Homo sapiens: one gene and its partner. The protein of the gene in region 1 interacts with the protein of each later gene in a pairwise test. Each region holds a gene or a part of one and is shown in the gene's direction. Other genes may lie near its edges. The genes, in order: RALGDS and RRAS2.

Region 1 (3,813 bases):
GCTGATCAGGTGACACACTCACCAGACACCACCAGGCCCTGTTTCCCATCCTCATCTTCAGGGCTCTGGGCTGTGTCCCTGGAGACATTGGGGTGTGGGGGCCCCTGCTCACCGGGGACCCCATGCCACCCTCACTGCACTGACCCAAATGTTAGAAGGCCAGACAGTGTGTTTACAGGCACAGCTGCCGACTGGGTCCCAGAGCCCAGGGACATCAGCATGCCTGCTAGGGGTGGGACAGGAGTGTCCCTTGAGGACACAGCCAAGCACGTGGTGTTCTTTTCTCCTCCTAGCAGTCAGCTCATAGCGGCTGCCTGGGCACCTGCCCTCAGGGGAAAGCGTTTTCTCTGCATCAGCTGTTCACTAGGCCGTTCCTGCTCCTCCCGCTCTGAGCTCCCAGCCCGGCCAGAGTGCCCTGGGGCCCAGGCGCTGCCCAGATGGGCTGTCTGCTAACAGAGTGACCTAGGGTGGCCTGTGGGTGCTGGAACCCTGCCTTTCTTGCTGCAGAGGGTTCTGGGGCAGCTGCCAGGGCTGTTGGCTGCTTTCTTTCTCTGTCCTGTGAGGGGGCAAGGGATAGAGGCCTTACTCTGCCACTTTGTTCCCAGACCCCAGGGCAGCTCTCTCTGGAGCCTGCACCTCCACCATCTGAGCAGATGGTTTAAACAGCCCCTGTACTCCACGTAGCTCTATGGTCTGGTTCCATGCCTGCTGCTGCTGTGACGGGAAGCGACCAGAGAAGACAGGCCAGCTCCACGCGGGCTAGAGCGTCTCCCCGACTGTGTGACAGGGTGGCAACTCCCTTACCCCAAGCATGCATGGCTCTCAGTGTTGGGCCTGCATCCTTCCCCACCACCCGGCTGGCAGAAGAGGGCCCCCCGGGGGTGGGGGAAGGGTGCAGGGATCACATGACACCAAGCAGGGCTGGGCCAGCTGCTGGCCTGCCAGCTCACGGAGGAGCCGCTCTCTAGACCTGCTCAGGGACAGCCGAGGCCACCTGGCTTCAGCCCCTCCTGGGGATTGGCCTGCCTGGGGACACCTCTGTCCAGCAGGCACTGATGGTGCTCAGCCAGGACCTGGGTGCTGTGCTGGGCTCCCCCAGGGTTAATGTTTAGTCCCCTGTGGCGGGCTTGTCCTGCACGAGATCTCAGAGCCACTGCCGGTGACTTGGACACTCAGGATACTGTCTGCCTCCCAGCTGGTCCAGATGTGGCTAAAATCCCTGGGAGAGAGAGAGACTCCCAGCTGAGCCAACGGCCTTCACAGGAGGCAGTCTGGGACCCCTGAGGAGGCCCGGGTGGTTGGGGGCCCTGGTCGCTGTAACCTCTAATGCTTTTCTTTTCAAAGGAACAACTTTCTAGGCAGGGGAGAGATGTGTGAGTCAGGAAAAGGGGGGTGAGCGTATGTCTCTTTTCCTGTCAGTGGAAGGGCCAGACCTCCCCTGGCGGGGCTGTTTGTGGGGTGTGGGTGTGAGTGTGCCTGTGGGTTCCCTGCTAACTTCCAAGAAATGGGGCTGGCTCTCTGTCCAGAGGCGGTGGCGGTCAGGAGCCCGGCACAATGCCCGCAGCTTTCCTGTTGTACAAAGCCCAGCGTGGGAGGCGACCTCAGGTCGGAGGAAGTGGACTTCCAGGATGGCTCCTGGGCCTCTGAGGGTGCGCAGGAGGCAGGAGGCCAGGGTCCCGTCCACAGCATGCTGGACAGTCTACCTGGCTCCTGCTGGGGTTGAGGGAAGGGCCTGAGTCAGCACTGTCTGCCAGGCCTTCTCTGAGCTCCACGCCTACCTGGGCTGGGGCACTGACTGGGCGGTTAATGACCCTGGGCCAGGCCAGTACCTCTTAGCTCCTTCCTAACCTCTGAGGTTGATGTCCTTAACCCCCCGGCTCCTCTACCCGCTGCAAGCTCATTCCGTCCCTGGACAGAGCAGGTGGCATAGGGGGCTGTGAGGCCGGGGGTAATTGTGGCTAAGTGACCTAGGCCAGCCTGCCAGGTGGGGGAAGTCTGTCTCCTAAGACAACGGCCTTTCCTTACTGCCTGGGGCCAGATGCCCCCTTCCTGTTCCAGTCTAGGCCTGTGGTTTAGGGCTCTGTGGAACCCCAGCATCTGCCTGGATACCAGCACCGTCACCTCTCACACCCGTCCCCTCACGTGATGATGGTCAGGGAACTGGGAACTCCCATTGCCCAAGCAGGCACGAGGGCATGAATGAGCAGAGGGGAAGGAAGTGGCTGGGATGTGGCTGTCTGGGGTGCCCCACACCTGCCCAGACCTGGGCTGCCAACGCACCAGGGCTGGGCCCAGAGGAGCTGTGCGTTCCTGCTAGGTCAGCCAGGGCCCCCCAGGCTGGGTAGAGGAGGGGTGAGTGTGAGGATGCCCATGGGCCTCTGGCCCTGGGGAGGTAGGGGGACCTTCTCTTGGGGCATAGCCGCCTGGATGCAGTCAGCCGTGTCAGAGCCCTGGGGTCCCTGCCTCACCACTTACCCGAGGCAGCATGACCTTGGACCAGTTGTTCCTCTCTCAGCCTCCATTTACCCATCTGTGCAATGGCTGAATAACAGTCCCCTGTGTGGAAGGGGATGGCTTGAGGGTGGGTCTGTCCTGGGCAGGAGCAGAAGCCAGTTACTAGGGGATTGGAAGCCTGGTGGACTCATCATAATCACGTCCCAGGTCGTGGCTGGCCGGGTTGGGGAAGTGGAGTGCCGGGACAGTGGCTCTCGAGCTGTGATCTCATTCCACCCCAGGCTGTAGGTCTGTGCAGCCGCCAGTCTGTGCCCTATCTGGGAAACAGGTTACACAGGTGCATCCCCTGCACGGTGGCCAGGCAGGCCCTTGACGTCCCCGCGCCCGGCTGCCGGGCGTTGTCTTCACAGAGCTCCACGCAGGAGATCGGTGAGGAGCTGATCAACGGAGTCATCTACTCCATCTCCCTGCGCAAGGTGCAGCTGCACCACGGAGGCAACAAGGGGCAGCGCTGGCTCGGGGTGAGTGCGCTCGGGGTCTCCACTGGGAGACGCAGCTGGGGATCCCTCCCAGGACTTTTTCACTTGAGGGCCCCCAGTTCTGATCCCAAAGGAAACGGCCTTCACTCCCTTCCCGACCCCCACTGTCCAGCCCAGGCTTAATCGGGTTTTCATGTTTGACCTCCCTTCCCCGGGTGTGCAGCCATCAGCCTCACCATCCTCCATGCCTTCTCCCAGATGTGCACACCATCTGGAGTAGTGGGGCTGTCTTCACCCAAGGACAAAAGGGCTTCAGGCTGTTAGGTCTCTGCAAGTTGCCATCTCCCAGAACACATCCCTGGGGTTCCTCCAGGTTGAGAGCCGGGGCCTGACTCAGCTGCATAATATTCCAGAAGGGAGGCTGGAGCCACTGCCCCAGTTCAGCTCCTCATGACTGTGGGGCCACTGTGAGTCCTCTGAGGACACTTCAACAGTGCTGCAGGAGCCAGGCGCAGTGGCTCATGCCTGTAATCCCAGCATTTTGGGAGGCCAAGGCAGGAGGATTGCCTAAGGTCAGGAGTTTGAGACCAGCCTGGCCCACATGGTGAAACCCCATCTCTACTAAAAATACAAAAATTAGCCAAGCATGGTGGTGTGTGCCTGTAATCCCAACTACTTGGGAGGCTGAGACATGAGAATTGCTTCAGCCCAGGAGGCTGAGGTTGCAGTGAGCCGAGATCACACCACTGCACTCTAGCCTGGGTGACTGTCTCAAAACAAAACAAAACAGTGCCACGGGGAAGATGCTGTGCGTCCTAACGGGCCAGTCCCTCCCAGCCCCTGGATAAGCCTCTGTTTCCTCATCTCTAGAATGGGGATA
Region 2 (3,813 bases), on another chromosome or scaffold:
CTCAAAAAAAAAAAATGTCTCTCTCTCTCTCTCTCCCTCTCTCTCTCTCTCTCTCTCTCTATATATATATATTTTAAAAGTTTCTTTTTCAAATTAAAGTTGGTCTTTAAAATTGAAACAGATTTTGTGATGCCACTTGACACGCCTTTTTTTCTGGTTGGGGAAAATGGTCTTTAGGATATTAATTCCACCGTGCCTTCCTTAATGAAAAGTGATAATGAGTAAAGGATTTTCACTTTGCGTGTAGACAGTATGGAGTTAATAGTCATGAATTTTGTTGAAAGGCCTTGATCTTGAATTACTTTGGGCAGAGCTGCTGAGTCTGTTTGAGATTGAAACTTAAACTTGTAGTTGGTAGGCCTTAGATTTATTTCTTTTGCAAAGAAAAATGTGTTTCAAAGATGCAAAGAAATATAAATTGTCTTAAATTGTACTTGAGAATAATTGGACTGAGCTCCTTGATGTCTTATAAATTATATTTTATTTTTAGTGTTTTATAAAGGCCATGTGATTATTTGTTGCATAGCACTGAACAGCTTTAACTTATAGTTTAATTAAAAATGCAGTCAGTTTATTGTCGGTATATACTAACAGTTTAATATTGCCGTCTTTAACTTACTGTCACCTTATACAATGATTCTTTTTTCTGGGAGAAAGCTCTTTATCCATGTAAGTAAAATTCAGCAGTAGAAATAAGAATATAAGTGTTAAAAAGACATCCGATGTTGCTTTCTTTTTTGACTTTAACCAGATTTCCCAAATGGTAACATTTTACTATATTTGCTTATTCCCTGCAATATATGGTTTTTAAAATCATTTGAATGTAAGTTGAAGACATGATGCCACCCTTATCCTTAAATATCTCTTTGTGTATTTCCGAAAAACCAGGGCATTTGCTGTCTTCTTTTTTTTTTTTTTTTTTGAGACGGAGTCTCACTCTGTCACCCAGGCTGGAGTGCAGTGGCACAATCTCGGCTCATTGCAACCTCCGCCTCCTGGGTTCAAGGCATTCTCCTGCCTCAGCCTCCCGAGTAGCTGAGATTACAGGCGCCCACCACCACACCTGGCTAATTTTTTTTTTTTTTTGAGATGGAGTTTCACTTTTGTTGCCCAGGCTGGAGTTCAGTGGTGCGATCTTGGCTCACTGCAACCTCCACCTCCCGGGCTCAAGCCATTCTCCTGCCTCAGCCTCCCGAGTAGCTGGGATTACAGGCGCTTGCCACCATGCCCGGCTACTAATTTTTGTATTTTTAGTAGAGACGGAGTTTCACCGTGTTGGCCAGGCTATTCTTGAACTCCTGACCTTATGTGATCCACCTGCCTTGGCCTCCCAAAATGCTAGGATTACAGGTGTGAGCCACTGTGCCTGGCTGCATTTGCTTTCATGAATAAAATATACTAACCTAACTCAGAAATTAACATTGATTTGTTATTATACTATTACCTGATGTGTAGAATTTGTTTGAAATTTGCCAGTTGTTCCAGTTACGCCTTTTATAGCAAAAGAAAATCTCAGATTATCCAATTCATTATTTCCATGTCTTACTTTGGAACAGTTCTTTAGTCTCTGTGTTTTATGACATTGATATTTTTAAAGAGTACAAATTAGTTACTTATAGAGTCCCCTCAGTTTGGGTTTGGCTGATGTTTCTTCATGATTAGATTCAGGTTATGCATTTTTTGGGGGGCAGAAATAATACAGAAATTATGTGTTATTAGGCAACATAAGATGTGTTTATTTGACCACATACATGCCTTTTGACTCAGCAGTCCCAAATCTCAGAATTTACCCAGAAGATGCACTTCCCACAGTATGAAAATACACATGTACAAGGTTGCAGCATTTCTTAATTACAAAAATTAACAAGCAGTCTACGTGGTAGGAATATCCAATGGAGCATTATGCACCTGTGAAAAAGACTGAGGGCATGATTAACTGATATGGAGTGCTTTCTTGGATATGTTGTTCACTTGTCTTGGTTTGTCTTGCTTTCAAACAAGCTTGTCCAACACTCAGCCTGCGAGTGGCATGCGGCTCAGGACACCTTTGAATGTGGCCCAAGACAAATTCATAAAATTTCTTAAAACATGAGATTTTTTTTTTGCAATTTTTTTTTTAACCTCGTCAGCTATCGTTAGTTTAGCGTATTTTATGTGTGGCCCAAGACAGTTCTTCCAGTGTGGCTCAGGGAAATCGAAAGATTGGACACCCCTGCCCTAAAGGAATACCTGAGGCTGGGTAATTTATAAAGAAAAGAGGTTTTGTTGGCTTAGAGTTTTTGCAGGCTGTACAAGAAGCACAGTACTAGCATCTGCTTCTGGTGAGGGTGTAAGGAAGCTTCCATTCATGACAGAAGATGAAGGGGAGTGGCATGTGCAGAGATCACATGGTGAGAGGAAGCAAGCCAGTGGGGGAGGCGCCAGGCTCTTTTTAACAACCTGCTGTGGTGGAACTAATAAGTAAGAGCTCACTCACACCCCAGTCCCAGGGAGGGCATTAATCTATTCATGAGGGATTCATCCCCATGACCCAAACACCTCCCATTAAGCCCCACCTCCAACTTTGGGGATCAGATTTCAATATGAGATTTGGAGGAATCGCACAAACCAAACTTACAGTCAGTGAAAAAAAAGTGCAAAAGTATCTACTACTGTGTGTATACTACCTTTTGTGTAAGAAAGAAGGAGAAATAAGAAAATACGTATGTATTTGTTCATTGGGGCAAAAACAAAACACAAAGATAAATTGGAGGTTGATAAGATTGATTTCCTAGAGGATGGGTAAAAAGGTATATGGTGGAAAGGATAGAGGGAATGGGGGCAGGGACCCTTCTGAGGATACCTTTCTGACTTTTGAAACCATGTTAATGTTTCACATACTGAGTATATAAGCAGCAAACACACCAACCAAATCAACTGATGACAAATAAAAACACCTTAACAGGGAGTACAAATAGAAACAAATGAACTGAACCGTATTTCAAATGAGTAACTTAACTACACTGAAGGAGTGAAAAACAACTAATTTAGGTAACTTTTGATCCTAGTATTTGAACTCTGTCCTCAGGATAAAGACAAAAAGATTGAAAGAAACATTGAACTCTAGTTAATAGAGTTAACTAGAATTTTTGGTTTTTGTTGTTGTCATAAAGGCATGGGTTTGCAATTTTGAAGCAATTGTCTATACTGTTATAAGCAAATAAGTAAATATATTGTGGAAAATGGGAGCCAGTTTCTCACTGTTGGAGAAGGGAGTTACAAAGGTGAAAAATGTGAAGGTTAAAATGAACTCTGATGTTTGATTGGAATTGCAGATAGTGGCATAAATTCATAGTTTTAGAAGTATGTAGATATAGGCCGGGTGTGGTGGCTGACACCTGTAATCCCAGCACTTTGGGAGGCTGAGGCGGGTGTATCACGAGGTCAGCAGATCGAGACCATCCTGGCTAACACAGTGAAACCCCCCTCTTTACTAAAAATACAAAAAAAAAAAAAAAATTAGCCGGGTGTGGTGGCGGGTGCCTATAGTCCTAGCTACTCAGAAGGCTGAGGCAGGAGAATGGTGTGAACCTGGGAGGTGGAGGTTGCAGTGAGCCAAGTCGCGCCACTGCAGTCCAGCTTGGGTGACAGAGCAAGACTCTGTCTCTAAAAAAAATAATAAAAATAAAAAATGAATACAAAAAATTAGCCGGGCGTGGTCGCGGGTGCCTATAGTCCCAGCTACTTGGGAGGCTGAGGCAGGAGAATGGCGTGAACCTGGGAGGCGGAGCTTGCAGTGAGCCGAGATCGCGCCACTGCACTCCAGCCTGGGCA

What was found.
Region 2: the proteins of RALGDS (region 1) and RRAS2 interact in a two-hybrid assay, tested with the Homo sapiens proteins (2 studies listed by BioGRID and IntAct).

Annotation. Positions count from the first base shown.
Region 1 is NC_000009.12:133,111,204-133,115,016, reverse strand, and holds part of RALGDS (ral guanine nucleotide dissociation stimulator), read left to right. Parts: intron 1-2,864; coding exon 2,865-2,975; intron 2,976-3,813. UniProt on the Homo sapiens protein: Functions as a guanine nucleotide exchange factor (GEF) activating either RalA or RalB GTPases and plays an important role in intracellular transport. Interacts and acts as an effector molecule for R-Ras, H-Ras, K-Ras, and Rap.
Region 2 is NC_000011.10:14,349,004-14,352,816, reverse strand, and holds part of RRAS2 (ras-related protein R-Ras2), read left to right. Parts: intron 1-3,813. UniProt on the Homo sapiens protein: GTP-binding protein with GTPase activity, involved in the regulation of MAPK signaling pathway and thereby controlling multiple cellular processes. Regulates craniofacial development.